Regions from separate parts of the Homo sapiens genome. Here regions 1, 2, 3, 4, 6 and 7 are each linked to region 5. Evidence: fine-mapped expression QTL. A gene starts in region 5. Each other region holds a variant in brackets. All regions are shown on one strand. Distances are between the middles of the regions. Region 1 overlaps COL23A1 (collagen type XXIII alpha 1 chain). Region 2 overlaps COL23A1 (collagen type XXIII alpha 1 chain). Region 3 overlaps COL23A1 (collagen type XXIII alpha 1 chain). Region 4 overlaps COL23A1 (collagen type XXIII alpha 1 chain). Region 5 holds the start of COL23A1 (collagen type XXIII alpha 1 chain). Region 6 overlaps COL23A1 (collagen type XXIII alpha 1 chain). Region 7 overlaps COL23A1 (collagen type XXIII alpha 1 chain).

The links. PIP is the estimated chance that this variant, and not a neighbour inherited with it, causes the effect.
Region 1: its variant is fine-mapped to the expression of COL23A1 in blood mononuclear cells (TOPMed, PIP above 0.99). The same link has a PIP of 0.9 or more in T cells and whole blood.
Region 2: its variant is fine-mapped to the expression of COL23A1 in blood mononuclear cells (TOPMed, PIP above 0.99). The same link has a PIP of 0.9 or more in whole blood.
Region 3: its variant is fine-mapped to the expression of COL23A1 in thyroid (GTEx, PIP above 0.99).
Region 4: its variant is fine-mapped to the expression of COL23A1 in sigmoid colon (GTEx, PIP above 0.99). The same link has a PIP of 0.9 or more in transverse colon.
Region 6: its variant is fine-mapped to the expression of COL23A1 in whole blood (TOPMed, PIP above 0.99). The same link has a PIP of 0.9 or more in blood mononuclear cells and monocytes.
Region 7: its variant is fine-mapped to the expression of COL23A1 in whole blood (TOPMed, PIP above 0.99). The same link has a PIP of 0.9 or more in blood mononuclear cells.

What each region holds. Positions count from the first base shown.
Region 1 is chr5:178,537,587-178,541,650 of GRCh38, reverse strand. All of the region lies in intron 2 of COL23A1 (collagen type XXIII alpha 1 chain), which reads left to right. Among named protein-coding and RNA genes, the nearest start is that of COL23A1, 51 kb to the left of the region's middle. The variant T/C (reference allele first, on the strand shown) is at 2,511.
Region 2 is chr5:178,475,789-178,479,852 of GRCh38, reverse strand. All of the region lies in intron 2 of COL23A1 (collagen type XXIII alpha 1 chain), which reads left to right. Among named protein-coding and RNA genes, the nearest start is that of COL23A1, 110 kb to the left of the region's middle. The variant T/C (reference allele first, on the strand shown) is at 2,277.
Region 3 is chr5:178,303,944-178,308,007 of GRCh38, reverse strand. It overlaps COL23A1 (collagen type XXIII alpha 1 chain), which reads left to right. Exons shown (of 29, transcript NM_173465.4): 3 at 1,089-1,133. Among named protein-coding and RNA genes, the nearest start is that of PHYKPL, 73 kb to the right of the region's middle. RefSeq lists an enhancer at 1,058-1,569. The variant C/T (reference allele first, on the strand shown) is at 1,681.
Region 4 is chr5:178,336,674-178,340,737 of GRCh38, reverse strand. All of the region lies in intron 2 of COL23A1 (collagen type XXIII alpha 1 chain), which reads left to right. Among named protein-coding and RNA genes, the nearest start is that of PHYKPL, 110 kb to the right of the region's middle. The variant G/T (reference allele first, on the strand shown) is at 1,556.
Region 5 is chr5:178,588,128-178,592,191 of GRCh38, reverse strand. COL23A1 (collagen type XXIII alpha 1 chain) reads left to right here and starts at 1,799. Exons shown (of 29, transcript NM_173465.4): 1 at 1,799-2,288. The coding sequence starts at 1,995. RefSeq lists a silencer at 1,598-1,797 and an enhancer at 2,453-3,353.
Region 6 is chr5:178,484,999-178,489,062 of GRCh38, reverse strand. All of the region lies in intron 2 of COL23A1 (collagen type XXIII alpha 1 chain), which reads left to right. Among named protein-coding and RNA genes, the nearest start is that of COL23A1, 100 kb to the left of the region's middle. The variant T/C (reference allele first, on the strand shown) is at 2,473.
Region 7 is chr5:178,239,669-178,243,724 of GRCh38, reverse strand. It overlaps COL23A1 (collagen type XXIII alpha 1 chain), which reads left to right. Exons shown (of 29, transcript NM_173465.4): 26 at 1,331-1,384; 27 at 1,597-1,683. Among named protein-coding and RNA genes, the nearest start is that of PHYKPL, 8.9 kb to the right of the region's middle. RefSeq lists an enhancer at 2,741-2,860. The variant C/G (reference allele first, on the strand shown) is at 2,416.

The sequences.
Region 1 (4,064 bases), 51 kb after region 5:
TGTACAAACCTTACAGCAGAATTGCTGGGCGTAAGGTATACATATGTTATGTTTAGTAAATAGTTCCAAATCTTCTGAGACAGAGTCTCACTCTGTCACCCAGGCTGGAGTGCAGTGGCAAGGTCTCAGATCACTGCAACCTCCACCTCCTGGGTTCCAGCGATTCTCCTGCCTCAGCCTCCCAAGCAGCGAGGACCACCACACCCGGCTAATTTTTGTATTTCTGGTAGAGACGGGGTTTCACCATGTCGCCCAGGCTGGTCTTGAACTCCTGGCCTCAAGTGATCCACCCGCCTTGGCCTCCCAAAGTGCTGGGATTACAGGCATGAGCCACTGTGCCCGGCCCCAAATCATTTTTGAAAGAGGGTGATAGTCCCACCCAGTGTGTTTGACAATTCCAGTTGCTCTGCATCCTCCCCAACACTTGGATTTTCTGTCTCTTTTCTTTTAGTTATTCTGGTGGCTTTGTAGGTCTGTTTTTGGATCTTTTTGCTGTTCTGTTCTATTTGTCTATCCATGTGTCGATACTGTTATTTTAATTCCCAAAACTTGATAGTTAGTATTGATAATAGAATAGAGGTTAGATTTTCAGGATTGCCTTGACTGTTCTCAGTCATTTGCACTTCCATAGAAAGTTTAAAATGTTTGACAATTCCCTTAAAAATAAAAAAGATAAACAGCCCTGCTGAGATTTTTAAAAATTATTTCTTTGTTTCATTTTTTGAGACAGGGTCTTGTTCTGTCCACCTAGGCTGGAGTTCAGAGACGTGAACATGGCCCGCTGGAGCCTGGACCTCCCAAGCTCAGGCGATCCTCCCACCTCAGCCCCCTGAGTAGCTGGGACCACAGGCACTCACCAACACACCTGGCTTCCTTTTGCAGAGATTTTTTTGTAGAGATGGAGTCTCACTGTGTTGCCCAGGCTGGTCTTAAACTCCTAGGCTCAAGCCATCCTCCCACGTCAGCCTCCCAAAGTGCTGGGACTGCAGGCATGAGCCACCACGCCCAGCCACCCTGCTGAGATTTTGAATGAGATTCATTGAATATGTATTAATTTAGACAGAGTGACATCTTTACACTCTTCAGGCCTCCGATTCATGAACATGGTATCTCTCTCCATGTATTTGAGTCTTCTTTAATTTTGTTTGATAATGTTTTATAGTTTTGAGAGTAGAGGTCTTACACATCTTTTATTAGATTTATTCTTAGAATTTAATTTTTTGTGTGTGAACTTGTGTAGATAGGTAAGAATTTAAATGTTGTGTGAATATTAAATAATAATATTTTTAAAATTTGCTTTCTGTTGGTGATGACTTTTCATGTTGGTCTTGTATCTAGTTACCTTGCCACATGTACTTGTTAATTCTAATATTTTTAGATTTTCCATGTATCTTCTACCATACCATCTATAAATAATTAGAGTTGTGTTTGTTCCTTTCCAATTCTTATGCCTTTTGTTTCTTTCACTTGATTAATTGATTGTCTAAGACCTTCAGTAGTGCTGAATAGAATTGGAAATAGCAGGCATCCTGGTTTCATAACTGAACTCAGAGGAAATATTAAAGGGCTTTTGTAAAAAGTGATGATTAGGTGTTACAGTTTGTCAAATAGTGTTTCTAAATTTATGAGATGATCATATGACTTTTCCCCCTTTTTTCTGTCAAAACAGTGCATTATATTAATTGATTTTTAGGATGGTAACCACGCTTGCATTCCTGGAATAAACGCCAGTTGGATGGGATATATTATTTTAATATGTTGCTGGATTCAATTTGCTAATCTTTTGTTTAGGATTTGCATCGGTCTTTATAGAAAGATGGTCTAATATGTGTTCTTCTGTGGTCCAGTTTTGGTATAAGGTTATGCTGGTCTCAGAACAAGTTGGGAAATGTTACCCCATTTCTATTCTCTGGAAAAAAATGTGTAAGGTTTAGTGTTGCTTTTTTTCTGAAGTGTTTGGAAGAATTCACTGGTGAAAATATCCAGGCCTAGAATTTTCTTTAGATTTTAAGTAATTAAGTCACATGTTTTAATAGAGAACTCTGCTTCATTATTTCTTTTTTTTCCCTTTCTTTCTTTTTCTTTTTTTTTTTTTTTTTTTTTTTGAGACAGAGTCTTGCTCTGTCACCCAGGCCGGAGTGCAATGGCGCAATCTCAGCTCACTGCAACCTCCGCCTCCCGGGTTCAAGTGATTCTCCTGCTTCAGCCTCTCAAGTAGCTGGGATTACAGGCACTGTCACCATGCCCAGCTAATTTTTGTGTTTTTAGTAGAGACAGGATTTCACCAGGTTGGCCAGGCTGGTCTCGAACTCCTGACCTCAGGTGATCCATCCACCTCGGCTTCCCAAATTGCTGGGATTACAGGCGTGAGCCACCGTGCTCGGCCTCATTATTTCTCATAACAGCTTTATTAAGATTGAAGTCAGACACCGTACGGTTCATCTGTTTAAAGTATGCAATTCAGTGGTTCTTAGAGTATACACAGAGTTGTGCAACCACTTCCACAGTTA[T/C]TTTCAGAACATTTTCATTGCCCCACACAGAAACCCTGTCCCCTTAGCCGTTAACCCCTAAGCCCCTTCCTACAGGCCCTGCCAACCACGAATCTATTTAATTTCTCTAAAGCCTTGCCTTTTCCGGACATCTCATGGAAATGGAATCACACAACATGTGGCCTTTTTCATCCGGCTTCTTTTACTTAGTGTAATATTGTCAAGGTTCATTCGTGCTCTACTATGTATCCATACTTGATTCTTTTTTTATGGCTGAGTAATGTTCTGTTGTATGGCTACTCCACAGTGTGTTTATCCTTTCATCAGTTGATGGACATGTGGGTTTCCACTGTTTGCTTATTAGGCATAGTGCTGCCATGAACATTCTTGTACAAGTGTGTGTGGGAACATATGTTTTCATTTCTCTTGGGTAGATAGCTAGGACTGGAATTGCTAACTCACGTGCTTCATTATTTTTTATTGCTAAATAATAATAGGGATATACCAAAGCATATTTAACAGCTACCTTATTGATGGGCATTTAGTTGTTTAAGTTTGCTGTGAAACAGTGCTCCAGGCTGTGCTACTCAAAATGTGGTTTGCAAATGGATGCCAGCCCTTGAACTGTTTGTTATGGTTCTCTAACAAGATTAGAATAGAAATGGAGAATGTGTGGAAACTTTTATGAAAGCAATTTAAACAGTAATTTTATGTCTACTGAATCTAATTTTTTAATAAAATGGGCAAGTACTTTTATGTTTTTGGTTATTTAAATTTCATTTTTCTACCCCATCATTTTAGTGTATTTTATAAAAGCGTGGGTCCCTGACAAACTGGAAGTTAGAAAGATAAAAAAACAAGCAGCTTTTCACTCCAGTTAGGTAGAGAGGCGTTAAGTTTCTTCCAGTGTGAGCTTCTGCGGGAATCTGCCTAGAGGTGGAATGCCCAGCCCTGAGCGGTAAACGAGCCCTCTGGGGCTCTTGTGTGAGGAGGAGGGAGGAACATCTCCCCTTCAGCTCCTCTGTGCTCAGGATGATGATGAGCTGTAGCACAGATGAATAGACAAACAGAATGCAGCATATCCATACAATAGCATACGATTCAGCCTCAGAAAGGAAGGAAATTGTGGCACAGGCTGCAAACGTGGATGAATTCGACTAAGCCAGTCACAACAGGACGGATACTGTGTGATTCCACTCATAGGAGGTACCTGGGGTGAGTGCCAGGGGCTAGCCAGGGAGAACGGGGACAGCTTCTGTTTGGGAAGTTGAAGAGCTCTGGAGGCGGACGTGGTGATGGTGGCACGACAGTGTGAATGTACTTACCGCCACTGAGCCGTGCACTTGTGGCTGCCATGGGAAACGTCATGCCACGTATTTTACCACTTAAACGTCGTGCCGCGCACGTTTCACCACGTAAACGTCATGCCGTGTATATTTTACCACTTGCACACACAGTTTCAGTAAAGAAGGCGCCTGTCATGGCCTTGCCCTGTGGCTGGATGCTGCCCCACAGCCGCCTTCGGCAGACCGTGGTGTCCATTTTACAGAATTGTCACCCAGACAAGAGAGGGAC
Region 2 (4,064 bases), 110 kb after region 5:
ATCGCCTAAGGACATGTTTCTCAGAATGCATCCTGTCATTAAGAGAGGCATGACTATATTTTAAAGCAAATTCGGACGCCTTATATTTCACTTACAAGTATTTTGTTGTTCATCTCTCAAGGATTAGGGCTTTTTTTTCCTTCCTGCATAACCACAACGTCATTATCACACCTAAGATTAACATGAATCCTTAATATTACAGAATTTCAACCCCAATTCACATTTCTCCACTTGTCCCTAACATGTATCATCTCATCCTGGCATTTCCCAGACTCCCTCTGGCCACTTCCTGGGAACGGGTCCCATGTACTCTGGTCTGAAGGAGCCATGTGTCTTCCTGGGGTGTATTAAAGAGCTGTGGACACCTGGAGGGGAGAGCAGCCTCACCGGCCGCTGTGGCGCATGGGTGAGCCGGCATCTCCATGGCAGGTGATAAGAGAAGCTGCCCAGTAGAGGAGGCAGGAGGGACATCAGGGCAGCAGCTCGGGGTTTTTTTCGTTGCTGTGGTTAGGAGCACAGGCGTGGGAGTGAGAGCCTCTGTTCAGGTCCTGGCTCCCGACCTCCATAGCTGTGTGATTTGGGGCAGGGGGCTTTACCCCTATGAACCTCCATTTCTTCAGCTGTAAAATGGGTATGAATAAGGGTACTTGCTTTCTAGGAAATCCTGCACATAAAGCGCCTGATGGTGTTAAGTATCTGTGAGTGTTGGCTGTTGTCATTACCACGGTCATCATCATCATCATCATCATCATGAGGGTGATCCTTGTGTCCTGATGAAGGTCCTGGGCCACTGAGATGGCTGCCCTGGCACATGGCTGTCTCCCTGGGCCTCACATGGCCCAGGAAGCCAGGGTGACAAGAAAACTCAATGTTTTTAGGAGTAGCTCCTCTTCTCACACTGACAGCATTTTGGAGCCCAGTATGGCACCCGAATCCAGAAATTCTGGCAGAGTCTGTGCCGCATGCCTTTCTGGAGCCAGGATCTCTGTGCCTTTATCCTCTGGGGTAAGTCTTCTCATAGAGTCTTCTCTGAAGCAAGAGGGCACCCAGAAGGCTCTGGTACCCTCAAAAGGCCCATCAGTGTCTTTCCTGGCTACTTTGCTTTAAACCCAAGAATATCTGGCATCAAAGATAAAACAACTGGCCTCGGGTATTTTTCCCAAATATTAATTGAAAACATTAACTTGATTTCTCCAGACACTCTCTCTGTGGACACAGGAAGGGAGGGGTTGGCAGGCACAGGAAACGTTTGCCGCCCAGCTGGGACCCATTTCAGGGGAGCCCACCCAGATGTTTCCCGGACTGTGGGCCTCAGTGCTGGTGTGGGGGATACTGGATGGAAAGCACAACTTCCAAGTAAAAGGGAACAGAGCTAGGAAAATATGCAGAATCTGGGCAATGAAGAAGTGACATGTAGGTTGTATAAGAAATGGCACTATCGTTTTGAGTCTGGAGGCCAGTTCCTCTGCAGTGGACTCCTCATAGCCCAGGGGAACAGTTGTTCCAGTTAGTCCCGGATAACCCTAGGTTGCTTCCCAGGTGTCTCAACCCCTCACTGCATTCTCCTGACCCTCCAGGCATCTTGGCAACCCACTGATTCTCCTGGCCAAGCCCTGGTGAAGATGGCATCTTCCCATCTCACACATCAATCTCCTGTACAGAGCTCGGAAGGGGCTTTCATCTTTAATGCTCCAGTGAGGTTCAGGGAGGCCTGTCGGGGGCCCGCAGGCACTGTCTGGCTCAACTGATTGAGGCCCTGCAGGACCGCCCCACCCAGGCCCAGCCTCTTCCCTGCCTGTTCTCTCCGAGGCTAGAATCCCATGCTCCCTCCTCCCACACCCTGGGACCTCCCTCAGGTGGCATGAAGGGCCTAGGAGGAGGCTGCCTCTCTGATAACTGGCACCTGCCTTCTCATGTCTAGTTTTGTCTAAGTCTCAATTTTCTCATCTGTGAAATGGGGTCAATCACTCCTACCTCCTACGGCTCTCGCAAGCATCAGAGTGGCAGACTTCACCCATTAGCACCAGCATCCGAAAGAATCCCAGCCTGTGAAGCAAATGACTCGGGCTGTATTTCAACAAGGCTTTCCTCTCCCTATTCTACCTTCTCCAGGGAAGAGCGGGAAGGAAGGAGGGGTACGTTGACAGTTGCACACATACATGTTTTCACTCGCAGAGGGTTCAGGCTGTTTTGCATTTCTAACACGAACTTCGGGTGTCCTTCAAGGTTTTTGCTTCCTGATTAGGCAACATGCACAGTGATTAACCACTTCTCCC[T/C]TTGGGTACAAACTGTCTAAAAGACCCACTGGCGCCTAATAAGGAGACATGAAAGACACTCTTTTGAGGACGTTCTGCTTCTGCTGTCTGCTTTTCATTTAAACAAGCCATTTGTTTTCAGTCAAGATGGATTGCTGGGTTACATTGGTGACTCAGCACCCTGCATAAATATGGGTAAAACTAGAAGATTCTGTGACTCCAGTGGGGCAGGGAAGATCCATGCCTGACAAGCCTCTCTGCCTCTGCCATAGCATGAGTTGATGCCTTCCCCAAACCCCAGTCCCTGTTTCTCCTGCTCAGAGCTCTGTGAGCCCCAAGATGACTTCATGGTTTCGTTGTTTTCTGAATCCTTGGGTTGCCCTGAAAACAACCTCTTCCAGTAAATAGAAATAAAAGTGCTTCAAAGTCATGTCAACAGCCGCTATCTCTCAGCCTCTTATGGCGCTTTACTGTTTCCATGAGGCAGATCCAGCCGTCATTGCTTACAGAGCCCCTTCCACAGCCCCTGAGAATATCCGAAGCCACATATTCTGTTAACCCTACTATAGGGATGGGCAAAGTGAGGCCAGAGGAGTTGGGTAACACAGGTAGAAAATAACAAAGCTAGGATTGGAAACCTGACTTTCTGACACTTTGGGTTCAAACCCTGGCTCTACCACTTTATATTTGGAATCTCAGAGAAGTAGTTTAAGTCATGTGAGTCTTAGTGTTCTCACCTGCATAACAGAGAAGTTAACAGTGTCTGCACCAAAGGGAGGATGAGATGACATTGCACCTAGGAGGTCCCTAGCATGGTGGCTGGCACAGAGCCAGTGGGCCCTGGCACTGTCTCTGATCTGGCCAAAGTGGCCCCGCCCATGTTGTTGACAGGCACACACCACGCACATCCAGGGCCCTTGTGGAGTTCACAGAATGCTGCTGGTTACAGCGCCACAGTGGAAGAGGAGCACGGCAGGCAGAATCTAAGACAGCCCCGAGATTCCTGCCCCCAGCGCACACGCTTTGTATTCTCTTCCCTTAAGTGTAGGCAGGTCCGTGGATATGATGCGGTATTACTCTCATGATTATGTTACATTATATAGATAAGGGAATTTGCCATTTGTTCAGTGAAAGGGCAAAGCGGCCCCCAAATACCAAAGGAGCCAAAAAACCAAAGAAGAGGCACACAAATCCAGATTGTCAGTAAAGGTTGATTTATTGGGGAACTTACAGACAGAAGCGTGGTCTTGGGTGGCTGCAGGACAGGTAGATCTCCACTCTGTTACTCAACAGACCAAGGGCTCTTATACCGCTGGGAAAGGGGTATGTGCTCCAGGGAGACAGTGGGAGGCAGCCCTACAGAACGGCAGGCATGCTGTATGCGCCATTTCCTATTATGACGCCTATTATTTGTGGAGTAGCATCAAGGTTGACATGTTCTTACACTAGGGACAGTAAACAAAGTAGAAATCAGGGGACATTCACAGGACTAGGGCTAATCAGAATTCAACATGGCAGATTAGCGTCCAAGATGGAGTCACTGTTGTGTCCACACCAATTGTAATTAAGTTTACTAATCAGTTGACTTCAAGTTTGCCGAAAGGGGGATTATTCTGAGTGGGCCTGACCTAATCACATGAGTCCTTTGATTCTGGGTCTAAAGATCAGAGATAGACGATGTCCAAGGAATTCGAAGAATTAGAGGCCTTCGCAGGGGTCCTCCCAGCCAGGAGCTGTGGGCAGCCTCCAGGAGGTATGAGTGGCCCCCAGCCAACAAGCAAGAAAAGGGGGCATATGTCCAACAACTGC
Region 3 (4,064 bases), 280 kb after region 5:
CACCCACACTCATTTTTCCATCCTGCCACAGACGCGATCGGGGCCAGTCTCCTGCATCTCCTTCGTGGTTGTTCTGGAAATTCTTGACGGGGTTTGAGGTTGGCTTTTGCAGGAAAGGGCAGTGCCTTGTCATAGGGTCACAACCTGTCCCACTGTCGCCTCCAGGCCCAGCCCAGATCCTGGCATACAGTGGGTGAGCAAGACGTATCAAATGCCATTTACACATTGCAATCTTGTACCTGCACCCAACTTCACTGAAACAGGGGCGAGAAGGGGCGCCAGGAAGGATGGCAGTGAGCGCCACAGAGGTGAGGGGAGGGAGAGGGAGGCCTCAGACCTCTGCTCCCACGGCCAGAGTCAAAGCGTCTCCTTCAGCGCTGAGGTTACTCTGGTCTCAGGGTCTGATGTGGGCAGAGGGCCAGAGGCGGAGGTAGGGGGTTCTGCACCGTAAATTCAGAAGGGCTTATAGCGCGCGGATGGAGGACAGACGTGGACAGGAAGCCCAGAAGGCGGCTGAGCAGCTCCCTGGCTCTGGGGAAGGAGGAGCTGGAGGCCCCAGCGAGTGGCGGAGACTGCAGGCGGATCGTGTAGTGCCTGTCATGAGTGGATTTCGGCGCTGCGCGGCCGTGATGGCCTCTTTGTTGTGTTGGCTTTGTTGTTTTACTTTAGTGAATATGAAGCAGCGTTTGTCAGGGCTTTCCTAAGATAACCCACCCTTACTTTCCTCCTAAGTCTGAAGTTTCTCAGCTGCAAACGCATCTGCCTCAGGAGCCTCCCATGGGAATCTTTGTGATTAGGGGAGGGCTTAGGAATGACTGAGTGAGCCGATGATTGAATGACAGAATGGGTGCGTGGGGCATGAGGGATGCGGCCACCTGGGGAGGGGGGTTGGCGGAACAGGCGAGGTAGTGGCAGAAGGAAGGGGTTTCTCCCCACGCATCTCCCCCTCCACAGCCAGCAGACCCCCTCGGGCAGGCCACTCCCAGAAAGCTGTTGCGAGCGGACAGGTGGGTGGCTGGGGCATGCCCCACGCAGCCAAGTCCACTGGCTTCCCTTCTCAATGAATGCATTCTTGTTTTCCTGTCTAGGGCCCCCTGGACGGCGCGGCAAGCCTGGGAGAAGAGGCGACCCTGGTGAGTCCCAGGTTTTCTCAGCTCCTAAGCCAAGGCTTGGAAGCCACCATGGCCCCAGGCTCTGACTGCAGGGCCTGGCCACCTGCTGCCCACCCTGAGTCATGCCTTGGTCCTGGGCAGGTGCTCCTCCCCCTTCCAAGTCCAGCTGCCGTTTCCTGAGGCCGCAGCACCCAGTACTGCCTTTCCGGGGCTTCTTGGCATTCACAATTCCAGGACTGTCCCCTCTGCCCCCAGTCATCCCCCGAACCTCGTTGTTGGCCCCTAGTCCCCCACTCCAGAGCAGCCCCCTCTCTCTGAGGCAGAAGGTGATGACTCCGCCAGCCACACCCTCCCCCATGGGTCCTTCAGCACAACCGGGTTCTCCTGTGGGTTTCATCCCTCCCCAGACGTGGCCTGTCCTTCCTTGGCAGAGCCGCCAGGAGGAGACTCCCCCACCTCCCTTCCCTGCAGCCCACAGAGGCACCTGTATTCACCACCCTTCCTTCCTGCTGTCTCTGCTTCACCCAGAACTCCCCCTACCCAGTCCCCAGCAGATTGCCCCCTTCGC[C/T]CAGGGACTTCCCTAAGCCCCTCTGACATCGTCTTAGCTAAAGTCATGCTGACCTCTGATGGCCACACTGGATGCTTTGCTGTCTTTCTCTTTCTTGACCCCCACCCTTGGCCACTCCCCCATGCTGGGCAGTCCCGGCTGTCTGGGCTGCGCTTCCTCCCTGCGCTTCCTCCCTCATCTGTGACCCGGGCTCCTTTGCCATTCTCACGGGACCCACCTGCCCCGTGAATGAATCTCCCTTGGTCGTCTCCTCTCCTCTCTCCCACAGTCTCCCACTGCTGTGACACTGACCATGTCCTCTCCCTGCCTCCAGCCACATCCTCTCCTCCGGGTCCCCGAGGTTGGACGTTGCCCTGCCGAAGCCAGCATCTCCCCCAGCTTTCTTCCCTGGGCTTCCCCGTCACAGGGAGGAGGCATCTAGCCACCTGCTTCCCTGTGTAGACACCTGGCTGCATCCTCGATCCCTTCCCTGCCCACGCCAAGTCCCCATGAGCCTCCTTCTCCATGTCTCGGACCCATGTCCTCTTCTCTCTTCTCACTGCCGTGACCTCCTGCAGCTCTCATCACCCCCCACGCCATGTCCCCACCTCCAGCCTCACCATGGATGTCCAGGGCTCTCCACCTTCTGAGCCTTCACTCTTATGTCTTCCCGCACCCAGAACATCTCCTCCTCTACCTGGACTCCCACCCCAAGATCATTACCCTTTGTCCTTCAAGCCTAGCTCAAGCATCTCCTCCAAAAAAACCTCTAATGGTTTTGTCCAAGAGGTATCGCCCCACACTCAGCACGGGCAGCCCCCAGGCATGTAAATGCACAGAACAGCGAACGAATGAATGCCCAGCCCCTAAGCAACTTCACAAGGTGGCCATGGTGACGAAGCCAGGCTGGCTCACCACCAAGAGGACCCCGGGCCAACTGGGCCCAAGGGGAGGCAGTGGCACGTTTTCTCCAGGCCTCAGACTCTTCTCCCTGGAGCTGGGCGCAGGCTTTCTGCCTCCTTGTTCCACTGGTTTGCAGTGTCGAGTTCCTTACGCAGAGACCCTCCAGATACACTCCTTAGCGCTCACCGGCAAGAAGCACCCTTCATTTCTCTCTCTGCCTTGACTTCTGGAAGCTGAAGCCTGTTTTGAGTTCAATGGCTGGAGCTTCCTTTAGCCTGGCTTCTGTGTGTAATCACCCGAGACCCTGCCAAATACACACTTTATTACTCAGCTCTTATTTTCTACCCTCGTAAAGGGTTTTATTGCCTTTTATTATAAGTTCCTGACATGCTTTTTGGAAGGAGATGAGGAACACAGAGTCATTTTTTTAGGACAAAGTATGATATTATTCAGCTTACTCCAAAATCCATTTAACTTATGACTCAAGTTTAAAACAACCTCAAAGTCAAGGAAAGATAGACTCACTGGGTCCGTGGCCCCGTGCTGGGCTCTTTCAAGTCCTTTATCTCATGCGATCCTCAGACACTGCAAGATAAGAATATGTTATTATACCCACTTGCTGATGAGGAAACTGAGGCTCCAAGGGGTACAGTACCTTGCCAGAGGCCAGCTGCTGGCCAAGGGGTGGGCAGGATCCCTCCCCCTCATTGTTTTTCCAGTGTGGTGTCCCGATTGTCTGCCTATCCAAAAACAAAGTGAGCTACACAGAACAGACGTGCCTCTCTGATGGGCCTTGTCTGGGCCTTGAGTTTATTTCTAGATAGTTACACACATATGCACATCCTGGCTTTCATGCCTTCCCTTGTATAAGGAGGCCGGAGGCCTTTTTCCTGTGTCTCTTGGGAGAAAGCCTTTTTTTTTTTTTTTTTTTTTTTTTTTTGAGACAGTCGCTCTGTCACTCAGGCTGGAGTGCAGTGGCACAATCTCAGCTCACAGCAGCCTCTGCTTCCCAGATTCAAGCGATTCTCATGTCTCAGCCACCTCAGTAGCTGGATTACAGGCACGCGTCACCACGCCCAGCTAATTTTTGTATTTTTAATAGAGACGGGGGATTTCACCACGTTGGCCAGGCTGGTCTTGAACACCTGGCCTCAAGTGATCCGCCCGCCTTGGCCTCCCAAAGCTCTGGGATTGTAGGCGTGAGCCACCGCGCCCACAGAGAAAGGCTCTTTTTTGCCAGGTAGGGCAGTGCCCGGCTGGGATTCCTCCCTGAGGCCGCTGCAGGCCTGCAGATAGGGTGATCCTGCCTGCCTTCAGTGCAGTAGCCTCCCTAGTTCCCAGCAGGAGCTCCACAGTCCTGCAGTGTTTCTATGTCTCTATCTGAAATGGGATGGATTTCCCACCTTCCCCTGGCTGGCTTCTTAGCTGGAGAATCCCAGAACTGTGCCTGCACTCTGGAGTCATCTTTCTTTCTAAGGGCTTTGGAGGATCCTCTCTCCTCC
Region 4 (4,064 bases), 250 kb after region 5:
TGAGACTCCCTCACTGCCCCTGGGAGGGCCGAGGACTAGAATCCCCGGTGTCCAGTTTGCCATCAGCCAAACACATGCAGAGCCTTGATGGGTATTCCCTGTGTGCTCTGGGACCATCAGCTTCTCCTGAGAGAACTTCAGGCCACTCCTGACCTCTGCGTCAGCCCCTGGATTTCCGCAAGATTCCTAGATGGTTCGCATGCACCAGGGATTTGAGAAGCTCTGACCAAACGGAGCAGCCCACACTGTGGGCTTCAGATCCTTCAAGGCTGGAGTGTAGCTGGAGTCGTGGTGTGGAGCTGGGCTCTTCAGTATCTAAGGCAAAAGCAGAAGTGAACGTTAATTGCCAAGGAGACCAGCTTTTATTTCCCCTTCTACCCCTCCTGCGCTGGAGCCACCAGCAAAGCTGTTCTGACACATGCTTCTTGGATAATTGTTTTTCTTACATGAGCACATTTTTTGGTGAGGCTTATTGCTGGTCAGAAAGGTGTCCTTGTTCTCAGCCAGGCCCATCCCTGCAGCAGGCTCCCTGCCTAGGAACTTTCATAGGTGCATTCCTCATGAGAACGCTGTGAGGAGGGAGTATGATGCCCATCTCATGGCTAAACATGTGAGATGCCCAAGGTCAAACAGCTAGAGACAGGCAACACCAGAATTCATCTCCCTAACCCGTCCATCCATTCATCGACCCCTCATCCCTCTACTCATCTCTTCATCCCCCAACAGCCACCCGCCACCCACCCATCCCACCACCTAATCATAAGTCATTGTTGCAGAATCACATTTTAGGTGGGATTTTTATTCTTGCATAAGGCAAAAATTGTACATGTTCCAAATCACTCCTGAAAATCTCTCAGGTTACCCATGAAAGCCAGGAATGCTTCCTCTCTCTGCCAGCCCCACAGAGCTCCAGTGCTGGGGAAAAGCAGCTAGAGCTGGCATTCAGAAGCCCTTGAGTTCAAGAAAGTCTTCATCACCAAACTCCAGAGTTCAGCTGGAGGCTCCCACCCCATACAAGGCAGTGGGAAGTGAGGCCCACTGAGGCGCTGGCAGATTCACGTCCCCCCACTCATGTTTACTCCAGTGCATAAAGGAACATATCCTCAGTGCTTACATCATTTTTCTCTTATTTTCCCCCACACATGCTAGCTGGCTGTGAGGTCAGTGAGAATGCCTCTCCACCACACAGCCAAGGATAGGCTCAGTCCCACGCCATCCCCTCATGGCTTCAGCTGCCTGCTGGTCAGTGCAGGATCTGAGGCTGTAGTAACAGGAGCACAATGCCTTGAACAAGGGAGGTGTTTTTCCTGCCCTGCTCTGCTCTGAGGCTTAAGGATCTCATTTCGGGAGTCTTAGTGCAGAGGGACAGAATGTATTGGATGGGGCAGGGCCAGAGAAGGTTTTCAGGATGGCGGAGGCTTGAGGAACACACACCCTGTAGAGATAATTCTGGAAACTGTGGTCGTGGCTTTGCCTGTCCATCTCTTAGGAGGTTTTGTGAGGAGAGGTTGGGTTTGTTCTGTATGGCCCCAAGGACCCAGACGAGTGCTGAGTG[G/T]ACCTGAGGCAATGGGTTTTAGTTCAGTGGAGGAAGAGCTCTCTAATAGGCAGAGCTATCCAAAGACAGCATGAACCTCTCTTTGAGGTAGTGAGCTCCCAGTCAGGGGAAGTGTTCAAGGGGAGGACACATGAGCACTCCTCTGGAGGCTGGAAGGGAATTCCTGCCTAAAGCAGGAGCAGTGAATTCATGACCCACAGGCTCATGCAGCCCTGAGCTTCTGTTTCCAAGCCCTAAGATGTGTTGTTGATAGAGACAAGCCTCAGCCTGTCTCTGGCCTTCATTCAGCTGTGATAGTCTCATCGGGTTTACATGTAATTTAGACAGATTCCTGTTAAGCCAGAAGGAAAAAGAGGCAGAGGATCCCCCTTGTGTGGGCACTTGGTCGCCCTCTCTTCTGATGCCCTGGATCTGCATATCCTCAGCTGGTCTCTGTTCCCCAGGACCCCCCCATTAACCAAATCATCTGGAGTTTAAGTACATGGTTCCCACCAAACACAAGCCGACTTCTCTACCCGATGCTGGCCAGTGACCCAGGAGCAACACCTTACCCGGTGCTGGGTGACCCAGGAGCTACCCCATTCCCGGTGCTGGCCAGTGACCCAGGAGCTACCCCATACCCGGTGCTGGGTGACCCAGGAGCTACCCCCATTCTTGGGGGAGCAACCTGCTGCGCTGCTGTCATTAAAGGGCTTCCAGGATGACGGCAGCGGCGCCCCAGCTTGCACCTGAGCCACAGTACCATGCTCTTTGCGGGAAGGCAGTCCTTGCTGAGAGTCCTGTGGGTTGTGGGATTAGCACCTGCTGTCCCTGGGGCTTCATTCTGAGGGCTTGACCAGCCTTTGCTATCTCACTGTGCCCTCTGGACTGTGCCCTCTGGACTTCCTGGAGATCAGGCCCTGAGACTGACACCGTCCCTCTCTGGCCAGCCTGGTTCTGAGGTGGGTCTGTCTGACTGTGCCAGCTGTGCTGTCTGCCTGGGTCCCTGGCAAGGCTCAAGGGACTTTCAGAAGCACCTGATACCAAAAAGTCATGGCTAACAGCATGGACCCTGGAGTCAGACCGCATGGGTCAGTTCCCCTGCCCATACTCCCAAGACTCCCAAGATGTGTGGCCCCAAGTACAGCCCCTCCGTTTCTCAGCTTGCTCTAACATGGAGATAACAGTGGCTGCCACTTCACGGAGTTGTCAGGAGCCTGGGTGAAATGATACACGCAAAACACAGTGCCTGGCATGAGGTCACTGCTCCATAAATGTCAGGGATTATAATTTTAACAATAATAATGAAAAAATATATAAACAAATAGATTGTATAATATCATAAAATATAATAATGATTAAAATTATCATTTTTTTGACTCCTCCATGACCCCATGAGCCTGTTTGTTTCCATCACCAGACGCTAATGGTGGACAGTGAGTGATGCTTTCGTGCCAGGAAGATGGGGGGTGTCTGTGGAGCAGCCTCAGTCTCTGGGGACAGAGGAAGCCTGCAGTCCTGGATGGCGGGGAGAGCAGTGGCTCCTGAGTGTCCCCAACCTCCTGCCCCCTCTACAGCGCCTCCCCCAGCCCGGCAGAGCCCACCTACCCCCAGAGCAGGGAGTCTGGCCCTGGAAGGATGCTCTCCATAACCCTGCACCCCACTCCGTCTCTCTGTCTTTCCACCCACTCTGGATGTGTGGAGAGCCTGGCAGTCAGCCCAGTTTCTGGAAGGGTCTCATGTGTTTGAACTCACTCCAATTTATGGAACCAATTTTCAAACTAAGGAGAGGTGACGTCTGGACTGTGCCATTAGAGCCCGCCTCCAGAGTGGAAAGGTGGGTGAAATCTGTTGGTTTACAAACGCTCCAACTCCCACGGGAACCTCTGCTCCTTCCCGGGGTCTGGCCGGGGATCACCGGGACAGGAACACGCATGCTCTCCTCGCCCTCACACGCGGGTCTCTGCGCTCCAGCAAGTGCACGCAGGCTGTGGGGAGGATGGCTCCACACTCAGACCCCTCTCAGATGAGCGAGGCCGGCCTGGCGCAATGTGTCGTGGCCCACACGTGCAACTTCCATGCTGCACATTCCCTGATGTCCTCCGCAGGCCCCCCTCCCATGGGAAATCGAATTCCAATAGGGGGCAGGGACAGACTGGAGAGATCTGCGTGATCCCTGTTTCCGCCGCTCTGAGCAGCTCGCTGGCTCCGGGGAGGAGTGTATTTACTCTTTGCAAGTGCAAACCCACGCCTCGGTATAGCAGAGGCCTTGGAAAAGCAGCTGCAGGAAAGTTGCACTTGTTTCAGCTTTGCCTTTTTTTGTTTTTTTCCTTCTACCCTCTTAGGAGAGCCAGTTTTCCCTCCTTTTAATTTTTGTTTTTAAAAGCACCGTTAAGTCCAAGATGAAACAGATTGCTCTGCCAAAAGGAAGACGAACTATTAGCTGGATTCTTTTTTAAAATTATTGAAGTGAAATTCACATCACATAAAATTAACCAGTTTAATGGAACATTTCAGTGGGGTTGAGTAC
Region 5 (4,064 bases):
GGTAATGGCCTCCCACTGTCAATACCCGCAGAGTGCTGCTTCGGCCTCCCCTGCTGGCCCCTCTGATCTCCACTTTGTGAAGTGGCTCTACATTCAGGCTGTCTTGAGTCACCCTCTCTGAGGATGCCATCTATTCTTCCAGGACCCTAATGGACACAAGTAAGTCATTTTCTTTTTCGCCTTTTAGAATGAGTTGCAGACAGTATTTCCATCTTAATTCAGCCGCCCCAATTCCCTGATTAATCTTGTGGGCCACCTTAAATTGGGCAGTCTGGGAAGATCTTTTAGAAGCAGTGAGGTTGAGGACCTTGACCTGGAGGATGAGGAGGGGCTTGCCGTTTAACGATCTGAGAGCAGGAATGCAGGTAGTGAGGTGGTAGGCAAGGGCAGAGGCCCAGGGGCCAGTGAGCTTGGCTTTTTCAATACACAGAAGCTTCAGGAACATGGCAAACAATACATGCAGTAACATTAACATAGGTAGGTGGTGTGCAGTTTATGTGCCTGTAAGAAATGTAGTGCTGACTTGTAAGAGGGTGTTGGCCTCTTTTCAGAATGAGGCCAACTTTTCATTCTATTGGGCATACACCAGACTTTAGCACAGAGCCAAGTCTATCAACCATAACCCCCGGCCATCTCAGGGGTTCCCCTCTGAATTAAGGGAAGGAGATGGAACATGTTAGCCAGAGGCACTCAACAGTTCTAAAAGGTGAGTATCCACAGAAATGAGACAACCAGAAGATATCCAGAGTGAGAGGGAAGATGGATATAACGTTATTTTTCTTAAAAAAAAATGGTTGGGGGGTTACTCAAATCACAAAGATCTGAACTGCTGGTTTGTTGTTTCATTTAGGTATTACAGGAGTTAGCGAAAGAGTTACTTGGGACCCATTTAGGACATGAATATGCCTGGTAGGAATCTGAACCCAGCCTGACTTCCAGCAGTTCTTCCCTTTCCTGCCAAGACTTGTTAGTGCCACTCATTCTGTTCTCTGGACCCAGGCTGTACGCCACAGCCTTCTTGCCTCAGCCCTGTGATTTAAATTTGCAGCAGAATCGCAGTACAGGTTAAGTGTGGTGCATACTAGATCATAATTTTTGGCCAAGTTGTGCGTCTAATACAGAATTAAGTCATCAGTTGAACAAGACTTGAAGTTCATTTTCTGAATCTTTCCCATTCGTTATAGTCTCAGTTTTCTCAAAAGCCCTCTCCAGGCCAGAAACAGTCTTACCATTTTTGTTTCCCGCACCGAAGTCCGGCAGCTAAGAACTCGTGAGAAGATTCTAAGGGGCGTATTTCTGTTTGGCGCAATCTCGACCCTGCCTCTCTAAATGTGAGTGCGCAGAGGTCGCTTTCCGCCACGAAGCGGCGCTAATCCACCACCGAGGACAGACCCACTCAGTTTTTTGCAGGATTTGAAGTTTTGAACTTTTACAAGTGTCAGAAAGGTAATTCACAAGTTTAGAGGAATGTGCTAAGGCACGAGTGGTGGGTGCTCCAGCCAGGGGTGGGCTGCAGAAGGGGCGCGGTGTCGCCGGGCTCCCCTCCGACCTCTGGGGTCCACAGTGCGGGCTTGGGCTGGGGAAGCCTCAGAGGTGCGTGCGGGGGCGGGTGCCGGCGCCCGGGCTAGGTGAGGGCAGAGGTGCGCGCTGCGCGTGGGATCAGCCCGGCGCCGACGGGTGGCTCCGAGGAGCTCGCTCCTTCCTCGCCCCCGCCCCCTCGCCGCGCGGGGCCAGCCCGGCCGCTCCTCCCCTGGGTGGGTCCCTGCTCCTTTTCTGGCAGGGTCTATTTGCATAGAGGAAACTGCCCAAAGTGGCCGCTGTGGAGGAGCTGGCTGCGGCGAAGGGGGCGTGCGCGGCGATCCGCTGCTACCCGGAGGCTAACCCCCGCGCCCGGCGGACCTCGTGCCTCGGGCTGTCCCGCCTGCTCCTCTCGCACCCAGCCTCTGCCCCAGCAGCACCGCCCCCTCGGAGAGTCCACGCGCGACGAACGCGCCATGGGCCCAGGCGAGCGCGCCGGTGGCGGCGGCGACGCGGGGAAGGGCAATGCGGCGGGCGGCGGCGGCGGAGGGCGCTCGGCGACGACGGCCGGGTCCCGGGCGGTGAGCGCGCTGTGCCTGCTGCTCTCCGTGGGCTCGGCGGCTGCCTGCCTGCTGCTGGGTGTCCAGGCGGCCGCGCTGCAGGGCCGGGTGGCGGCGCTCGAGGAGGAGCGGGAGCTGCTGCGGCGCGCGGGGCCGCCAGGCGCCCTGGACGCCTGGGCCGAGCCGCACCTGGAGCGCCTGCTGCGGGAGGTGAGCGTCTTGGCGCGTGGCTGGGGCGGACTTGGGTGTGTCGGGTTGAGGGTGGCGGTACGCTGGGAGCCGGGGGCAGCGTGCAGGTCTCTGGGAGGAGGGTCGCCCGCCGGCTGCGTGCGCTCGGGGCCGTCCCAGAGATGGGCACGTCTGCGCCAAGGCGGAGGCAGGGGGTGCCGGCCCCAAGGGGTTTTGCGGTCTCCGCTCCGGCCTCAGGGTCCCGTGCCAGGCAGGCGGCCGCGAGAAAGGGGAAGGAGAGACCAGGGACTTTGGAGTAACAGACCTAGGGTCAGTCTCCACGGGGTGTGCGCTCGGACACGCCGCTTCCCGCCGGCGGCCAGAGTCGGGGATAAAGATGAGGCTCGTGGGAAGTATCTGGTGACTGTGACCAGTAGCACCTACTGTTCCTAACCAACGCTGGTACACCTGGAGAGGCGGTGGTCACGGCGGAGGAAAGCCTCAGACAGGCCCGAGGGCTGGGCCCCGCTGTGCTCCAGTGTGTCTCCAGCAGCTCAGGCCCCAAGACTGAGCGGTCACCGTCGCACTGAGGCCTCGGGGATGGGGGTGGGGGCGCCCACATGACTTGGTAAGATGAGAGGAAGGAGAAACAATCGGGGGTGGAGGACCTGGATTCTGGTTTCAGGCGGTGCCATCTGGGGTGTGGGCTCGCAGGACATCCGGAGTTTCCCGTCCCTTACCTGGGAATCGCGACTTCCACAGCTTACTTGAAAGCTCATATGAGGCTCTGTGACACTTCTAAGGGTTAAGATTGCTGCTGTGTGTCTTCAAAGAAAGAGCCACCTTTGGGTCCTCCAAGCCCTCACCCAGCATGTTGGTCAAAGCCTCCGCCTTTTGTGTGCGGCATGTGCGGCAGTTCCCCTCCCCACGAAACTGGACAGGCCCTGGTGGGCTGGCCAGAGCCTCCCCTGCCGAGCCTTCCTCCTTCTCCTGGGATAGATGGCTGCTCCAGACCCCAAGGTCGCTGTCCAAGGGCGCATCCTCAATTGCTGTGTGAAAACAGGCAGGGTTTCAAGGTGGAGGAGAGGGAGCACTGGCCTGTACACCCCCAATTCCCTAGACTGCCCAGCTGGGATCTTTATTAACGTATCCAGCTGTGTTTCCAATGTTGAGTTCCTTTGGATTCCAAAGGAAAGTGGGAGAAGATGACTTGCGTACCACACCTCCTTGTTCACCCCACCTGTTTCTTAGTCACTTTAATTTAAGCTAGGATCACATCTCTTCTAGCTGGGTTCTGGGTAAAATTGCTGCTTCATGAAATGATTTCCTATTTTACCCTTGAAAGGGCCTGCAGACTTAAAACTCTCTCTCAGCCCTGCTGGAAACTCCTGGCGATGGTTTCATAATTGCCGCCCATTAGCTTTTGGCAAATGCCTGGAGACCAGGGTGTTGAATTGATTTATAGAGGGCCAGTAAAGTTTCTACCTGTTAGCGCTATAAGTGTGGCTGCTCTTTCTCATAGGAGGCCTCTCTTATTTGCTAAAAATAAACCGCAAGCCCTGATTGAGTAAATCAGAAGTCCTGATACAACCATTTTACAAGGAACTACAAATTGTGTCTATTTTAGGAGGGAGGGGCATCCTGGGCAGGCAGCCACTGCTGGGAAGTGTTGATTTTTGAGTCCTGAACTTCAGCGGGAGAGACTGCAGTTGCTCTCCCAGGCTTCCCCCCTCCCGGCTGCACTGAATTTTACCTGGGTGAACTACAGTGCTTGAACAATGAGTTATTGGACAGGGTGTGTGTTCTCTCTCTCTCTCT
Region 6 (4,064 bases), 100 kb after region 5:
CCAGTCAGGTCGACAGCAATAGGCCACAAGGATGAGGGGCAGATCCTGAGGGGCAGAGCCTTCCCAGGCGCTGAGTTTGGTTTAGAATGGTCTCTGCAGGGAAGTGCAGTGAAGCACCCGTTGGAGAGCTGGTGTGTTTGCACCGCTGCTCAGCGACTGCTCCTGTGTTTGCTGACCTTGCAGAAGTCCAGGTGAGTGCTCAGACACCACCTCTTCCTTCCTAAGCCTGGCAGAGCCCATCCCATTTGCTTCCTTAGCTACCCTCACGGAGCTCCAGAACTCTCGTCTGGTGCCTCCTTGAATTTACATTCATTGAATGTATACATTAAATATGTACAGTTGTTCATGTCAATCATACCTCAAAGCGTTTTTTTTTTTTTTAAAGAGTCATAGGCATATATGTGTGCTTCAAACTCCACGCACCGTTTTGTCTATAAAGTGGCGGCCTGCTGTGCAAATCTGAGTTTGGGGATAAGAAGAGAAAATTGGTGCAAGACTTCAACGATAGGTCTCATGTTGCATTTTAAGGAAAACATTGAATATAATTGGCGTCTGATGGCGGTGGCGGTGAGGGAAAGGAAGGAATACTGTATTCTGCCTGGAGAGATCACTAGAAATCTTCATGTGCCACAAAGGGAGAGGAGGTCACACGCAAATTTAGAGATTCCGGGTCTGGGGTCAGGGATTCTGCTCTGATCTGTGAGAGCCTTGAGGATGATGCTGTGAAAATTCAGCAGCTCCCCATCAGGCAGGTGACAGGGGAGAGGGCTATTCCTGGGCAAATCTCTAGCAGGCTTTTCTTGGGTTTATGTCATCTTCCCTTAATTGAATTCTGACTTTTCATATAAATTGAGAGGCCTGAGTGCACCAGATCACCCAGACCTTGCCAAATAAGAGCTTCATCTCAGGTTTGTCCCTTCTAATGAGGAGTGAGAACAATAGCTCCCCGGAGTGCTCCGTGTGTGCCAGGCACCCTGCCGTGGGCTTAATGCATTATTCTCATCATTCTCACAGTAGCCCAGTGAAGTCATGCCTTCATATCCTTGTTCTGCAGTTTCAAGGAGGTTAAGTAACCCAGCCAGGGTCTCACAGCCAGCACTGTCTTATTTGTTCTTAACCCCCAGCCACAATGTGCTCTTCTGCACAGAGCTGATGGGGCAGGGACACCAAATTAGAGAAAGCTGATGACCTAGAGCAGAGGCAGTTTCAAATGTGGCTCTTGTCTTCCTGTTCCAGTGACCCAGGGTTTTCAGTGGGATCTGGCTGTTCCGAGTTAGGATGGAACTGGGTATGTAGTTATCATGAGTGAGTTAGGGAAAATGCTGAGCAGCTAAACTGAAGTTTCTCTGCCTCCACTGTCACTTATCCATCCTCCCAGTTTTCCCAGGAGAGATAGGAGACGCTGTGGCAGTTGGGTCCCAGGACTCTCCGGAGTCATTCCCCGGACAGGCATCACATTGGGAACCTTACAGCCCCATAAATGTCTGGCCATCCTGGGGACTGCCTCATTTCACCCCATTTTAAAGTTTAACCATTTTAAGTTCCTTTAAAATAATACTGAGGCTGATACAAAAATTAGCTGAGCATGGTGGTTGCACGCCTGTAATCTCAGCTACTCAGGAGGCTGAGGCAGGAGAATCGCTTGAACCCAAGAGGCAGAGGTTGCAGTGAGCTGCGATCACACCACTGTACTCCAGCCTGGGCAACAAGAGCGAAACTCCTTCTCTAAATAAATAAATAAATAAATAAATAAATAAATAAATAAATAAATAAAACTGAGGCTGGTACCATGACTGCCTTCAGAGATTGATTTACCAGGGAAGCCCTGGCCTGGGCTGGAGATAGTGTGTCAACTGGGACTTGGACCTGGCCCCAGCCTGGAGCCTCTAGATTCTGAGAGCGTCCTGTGCAGAACACTCAGGCACTGAGGTGTCAACTGGGACTTGGACCTGGCCCCAGCCTGGAGCCTCTAGATTCTGAGAGCGTCCTGTGCAGAACTCTCAGGCACTGAGGGAGGAGCATGATCTGTGTAGGTTGATTCTGGAATGCATGAGCTACCAGTGGATAGAGAGCGTCCAGTTTTAAGTCCTGTGCCATTGATGTGGCCGAGGGTGGGGTGCAGCCTGGAGGTCCAGAGGAGGGATGTTTAATTTCAGCACCCCCGTCAGTTTCCTTCGTTTCCCCACTCAGGGTGTGAAACGCCATCTTAGCATCAGCTTGAAGTCCAAGGCGAGACACAGTAGGTTCCTGTGAGTCTTGCTTACACTCTTAAGTGTGCCTTCCAACTGGTCCTACTCACTTGGGCTCCTTTTTAGATACAGAGCCTCTTGGCCTTGGCATGTCTGAAGTACGCTTTGGGTTTTCTTTGGCTGTTTAGCTTCTGTCCTTCCTTTTTCACCCGGCTCTCCCTGTGGGCTTCATGTTTGTGGTCCAAGAGTCACCTCTGCTTTCACAAAACCACCCAACTGTCTC[T/C]TCCTGAAAGAGCCTCTTGGAATTTGCCAATTATTCGTTTCTTTTTTTCAACCCTCCCAGTTTCCTTTTCTCGTTGAGCGTAGTAACCGTTCGGCTTTTTGCTAACGGCCGTGTCTTGTCAACGTTTTGCTTTCTACACGTGGTAATTACGCAGTGCGCTCTGAGACTTCTCATCACGGTTCACCCTCGGGTATTCTCTGCGCTGGATCTTACTTATGCTGCAGGATTTCTTTGCCTCAAGAGTACTAAGCCTCCCTGGGCTAAGAAAATGCTGACCTTTCTGCTCATCCCGGTGAGGGGCCTGAGCAGCTTGAACACGTCACCCACTGACAACCGTCCTCATTCTGCAGCTGCCTGAATCTTGTCGAACACTCCCACATCTTCAGGACATTCAAGGTTGTTCACTTCTAGGGTGTTTTCAAAACTACCTGGTTGAAGTTTACAAGAGTCAAATCTGGTACCCAGCTTTACATGTGTATTGCACGTCCACATCAGAAAGTGACCAGGTCATTTCAAACAGTTTTAACTACCTAGCCAAGTGATTTTAACACAGGACATCATCAGTTGAGGGCAGAAGTCTTTGTTATCTTTCAAAGGTCTAGGAATATGCAATTTGTATTTGCAGCTGCGATTCTTTTTTCTGCAAAGCACCCCGGCACCCCTCCCACCACTGCTGCCCAACACAATGAACAGCTGGAGCTGAGGTTCCCCTGGCCACTCAGCTGGGGCAGATTTTCTTCTTAATGTCAAGTTTTACTCTGTACTCAGCTTACTCATCCTGACATTTCTGTGTTTTTTTTTTTTTTTTTTTGAGATGGAGTCACTCTGTCACCCAGGCTGGAGTGCAATGGTGTGATCTCGGCTCACTGCAACCTCCACCTCCCAGATTCAGGTGATTCTCCTGCCTCTCAGCCTCCCGAGTAGCTGGGATTACAGGCACATGCCAACACACCTGGCTAACTTTATTTTTTTGTATTTTTAGTAGAGACAGGGTTTCACCATGTTGGCCAGGCTGGTCTCGAACTCCTGACGTCAGGTGGTCTGCCCACCTTGGCCTCCCAAAGTGCTGGGATTACAGGCATGAGCCACCACACCCGGACTTTTTTCTTTTTTTTGAGACAGGGTCTCACTTTTGTCACCCAGGCTGGAGTGCAGTGGTGCAATCCTAGGTCACGGTAGCCTCAACCTCCTGGGCTCAAACAATCCTCCCACCTCAGCCTGCCAAGTAGCTGGGACTACAGGCACACACCACCACGCCCAGCTAATTTTTCTGGTATTTTTTGTAGAGATAGGGTTTTGCTATGTTGGCCAGGCTGGTCTCGAACTCCTGAGCTCAAATGATCCGCCCTCCTGGCCTCCCAAAGTGCTGGGATTACAGGCGTGAGCCACCACATCCTGCCTATCCTGACATTTCTTTACAAACAAAACTACACCAATTTCATATTGTTGGAATGAGGTGGGGAATAAAGGCATAAGCTAACCAATAGCATATTGCTGGAATTTTTGGAGTACATTTTTACACATTTCATTAATTTTTTAGGTCAAGATTGCCAGAGCCGTAAGCGAAGTCCTCTAAATTTATTTGTCTGTTC
Region 7 (4,056 bases), 350 kb after region 5:
CCTCCTCAACCCCAGAAGGCCCAACTATAATGAGGACCGTGCTGAGAAACTCCCCTTGACCCCCACCTGTGATAGAACAGCCCTTCCCTCCAGAATCCCACCACCCCTATTTCACACCTCTGTCACTGAGCATTGACTGTCATCAGCACTCTCTTGCCTGCCCCGTTACACGTGAACAAGGGACCATGTCGAATCCAATTCTCTTTTTAAAATTGTTTCTTTTTTTTTTTTTTTTTGGAGATGGAGTCTCACTCTGTCCACCCAGGCTGGAGTGCAGTGGCATGATCTCGGCTCACTGCAACTTCTGTCTCCCGGGTTCAAGCGATTCTCCTGCCTCAACCTCCCAAGTAGCTGGGACTACAGGTGCACGCTGCTAGGACGGCTAATTTTTTGTATTTTAGGAGAGATGGGGTTTCACTGTGTTGCCCAGGCTGGTCTTGAACTCCTGAGCTCAAGCAATCTGCCTGCCTTGGCTTCCCAAAGTGCTAGGATTACAGGCGGGAGCCACCATGCCTGGCCTCTTTGTTTGTTTTTTGAGACAGAGTCCCGCTCTGTCGCCCAGGCCAGAGTGCAGTGGTGCGATCTCGGCTCACTGCAACCTCCACCTCTCAGGTTCAGGCAATTCTCCTGCCTCAGTCTCCCAAGTAGCTGGGATTACAGGCGCGCATCACCATACTCGGCTAATTTTTGTGTTTTTTAGGGTTTCGCCATGTTGGCCAGGGTGGGTCTCAAACTCCTGACCTCAGGTGATCTGCCCACCTCGACCTCCCAAAGTGCTGGGATTACAGGCATGAGCCACCATGCCCGGCCACAATGAATCCAATTCTGTGTCCCCAGTGTCCAGCCAACAGCCCGGTTCCTAGTGGATGTTAAGCCACCTTGGTTGGGTGGACGGACAGATAGATGAATGGACAGATGGGTGTGCAGGAAGTTGAGCCAAGGGCACAGAACAGAGATCACCATTTCTCATCCCATCAGACAGTGACATAACTTCCATGGTTTCCGGGGTCTCTGTCCCCAGCCAAGCCTAGACCAGTGCCAGCCGCGTCTGTGATGTGAGAGACAGCCCCTTGCCAGCAGCTCTGCCTGAGTGTTGGTGTCCAGCGACTACTTTGGAGCAAGCCCAGCTGGCATCGTAAATGCATGCTCTTCCTACATCAGCCTTGTACCCAGCAGTGTATCACCTACAGCTAGGGCTAGGCCAGCGTGTGCCACGAATATGCAGGGGGGAAAGTGGGCGTGTGGATGGGAGAGGAACAGAGATGAGCCGGTAACAGAGGGGCAAACCTCCAGCCTCATTTTCGGGTTTAGCATCTAATCCTTTTGTCAGGGTTTCCCTGGACCCCGAGGAGAGAAAGGTGATCGGAGCGAGCGTGGAGAGAAGGTGAGGGCAGCTGGACGGGAGCTGGGGCAGGAGGAGAGGGGGAAGGAGGCAGGTGGGAGTGGAGGCTCAGGTGAAGCAGGTAGAGAGAACCCAGGCCGGGCAGGTGGGCGGAGGCAGGGGGAGGCTGGCCCCACGCGCTTCTCTCGGAGAGATGTTGGAGGTTCCTAAGCCTGGCAGCCATGACCAATACCACCATCTCCCCTCCTGCACAGGGAGAACGAGGGGTCCCCGGCCGGAAAGGAGTGAAGGGCCAGAAGGGCGAGCCGGGACCACCAGGCCTGGACCAGCCGTGTCCCGTGGTAGGTGTCGGAGGAGGGCCCTGCCCCAGGTCTTTTTGGCCTCCAGCCAGGGTCAGCCCAACATCTTCCCTGTCCTCGGAACTCAGCTGCAAGTCCCAGAGGCCCCACTGGTCACGCACTGGCCTTCCTCACTGTCAGGGCCACTGCTGCTGCTACTGCCATCATCGCGGTTCCCCTTGCTCTGGTCCTAACCACCCCCAACCATGGGCATGACTCAGGGAACCCAGCCCCTCTGTAGAGCTGGAGGCCCAGCCCCTCATTCTTCACCCCCAGGACAGGCCTGGCTTGAGTAGGAACCCACTGTGGGCCATCTTGGGCTGGAAGTGGACAGGGCCTAGACCAGGAGTGGAGGGGCTTTACCTGGAGTCATCAGCACCATCAGCGGTGCCCTGGGAGGGGGCTGGGCCCTGCGGAGGGAACCAAAGTTAGCACAGACACGCTGCCGCTGGGGGCGGAGGCAGTGAGTGCCCAGCCCCATCGCTGTGGTCTGGCTGCCTGGGGTGGAAGTCGGGGTCTGACTCCCACTGGGCCTGAGGCCAAGCTGAGCTGAAACTCAGCTTCCCCAAGCACAGACGGTGGGACCACCCTGACCTCTCTGGCTGGCTGTGCCTCCCCTTCCTTCCTCCTTCCCAGAAGAGTCTCTCTGGGCTGGGGCAGCACCTCCCTCTTCCCCACATCCCCTCTGCCTACCCCCACACCCTTCCTGTACCTCTTTCTGTGCTCTCTCAGTGG[C/G]CTTTGGCAGCCCACCAGCCCCAGTGGTTTCAGGCACTGGTGCCTGAAACAACCACAGTTCAAAAGTCAGCTCCATTTATTTCTTTTCGGAGACAGAGTCTCACTCTGTCGCCCAGGCTGGAGCGATCATGGTTCACTGCAGCCTCCATCTCCCAGGCTCAAGTGATCCTCCTGCCTCAGCTTCCCAAGTAGCCAAGAACTACAGGCATGCACCACCATGCCCAGCTAATTTTTAATTTTTGTAGAGCTGGGGTCTTGCAATGTCGTCCAGGCTGGTCTGGGCTCAAGCGATTGTCCCACCTTAGCCTCCCAGAGTGCTGGGACGACAGGTGTGAGCCACTGTGCCCTGCCTAGTTCCTTTTTCTAGAAAGTAGGGAGGGTTTACATGTCACACTCTTCCGGTGGAGCTCAGAAAAGACAGGAAAAACAGAACAGCTGGGTTTTCGTACTAAAACTGGACAGATATTCAGACGTGGCCACTCCAGCCACGGGGATGTGTGCAGGCCGGCCTCAACCTCCAGCGGTGCCAGAGTTAGAGACCCCCTCCCAGACCTCTGGCCTCTGTTCCTCAGTGTCCTTATCCCTGCAGTGGGGGATACCGCTCCCCTCGGACAGTTTTGAGAAGTCAATGAGAAAAGGACTTGAAGAGCGAAGTGGTCAGCGCACAGAAAGGGCGGGGACAGCAGGGGCAGGGTGGCCCAGCCCCGCAGCTCCGGGGCCTGGCCCAGGACTCCCCTCCAAATCAGTAAGCCCTTGTCTCCTTTGAAACAGGAGAATCCCACGTGCGGAGGCCGGAGAGGGGCACCAGGCTGGCGGGGCCCTGCGAGGGGCAATGGGCCATGCCCTGCGGTAGGCGGCCTGGCCTGCTGTGTGCCGTGTGCCGTGTGCTGTGTGGGCCTTCGGGGCAGCCAGGGCCCTTGGCTCTGCCCCGGCCTTCCTCGCTTCTGCTTCCTTTCCATTCTGCCCCCCTCCCCACCTTCCCTTTGGTGCCTAGCCTGGTCCCTGGTGTACACATGGGAATATTCCAGGGGATGCCCAGTGTCTGAGGCTCATTCCTGTGCTTTGGAACAGAATGACATGTTTTGCGCCTTGGTGTCCCTGATGAGTCAGTCTTCGTTCCTCTCCAGTTTCCCCACCCTCCAGGCTGCCTGAGGAAACCCGGCCCCTGCTTATGTCTGGCTCCTGGGTGGGCACCACAGGTGCCGCTAGATAGCCCTACCCCAGGCCCAGCCCCAACCCCCAGCAACCTGAGCCTGCCCTGCTCCAGCCAGCACAGGCTGGAGCAGGATGCCAATTCCTGGGCCATCCTTAAAACCCTCCAGGAGCCATTCCTGCCCAAGGCCTGAAAGCTCGCAGGCCCCAGGGTGAGGAGCCAGAGTGACCGTCACATCAGGCAGGAAGCCACACGGCTCTCAGCAGGACCCAGGCCAGAGTCACTGTCACATCAGACAGGAAGCCACACGGCTCTCGGCAGGACCCAGGCCAGAGTCACTGTCACATCAGGCAGGAAGCCACACGGCTCTCGGCAGGACCCAGGCCAGAGTCACTGTCACATCAGGCAGGAAGCCACACGGCTCTCGGCAGGACCCAGGCCAGAGTCAGTGTCACATCAGGCAGGAAGCCACACGGCTCTCGGCAGGA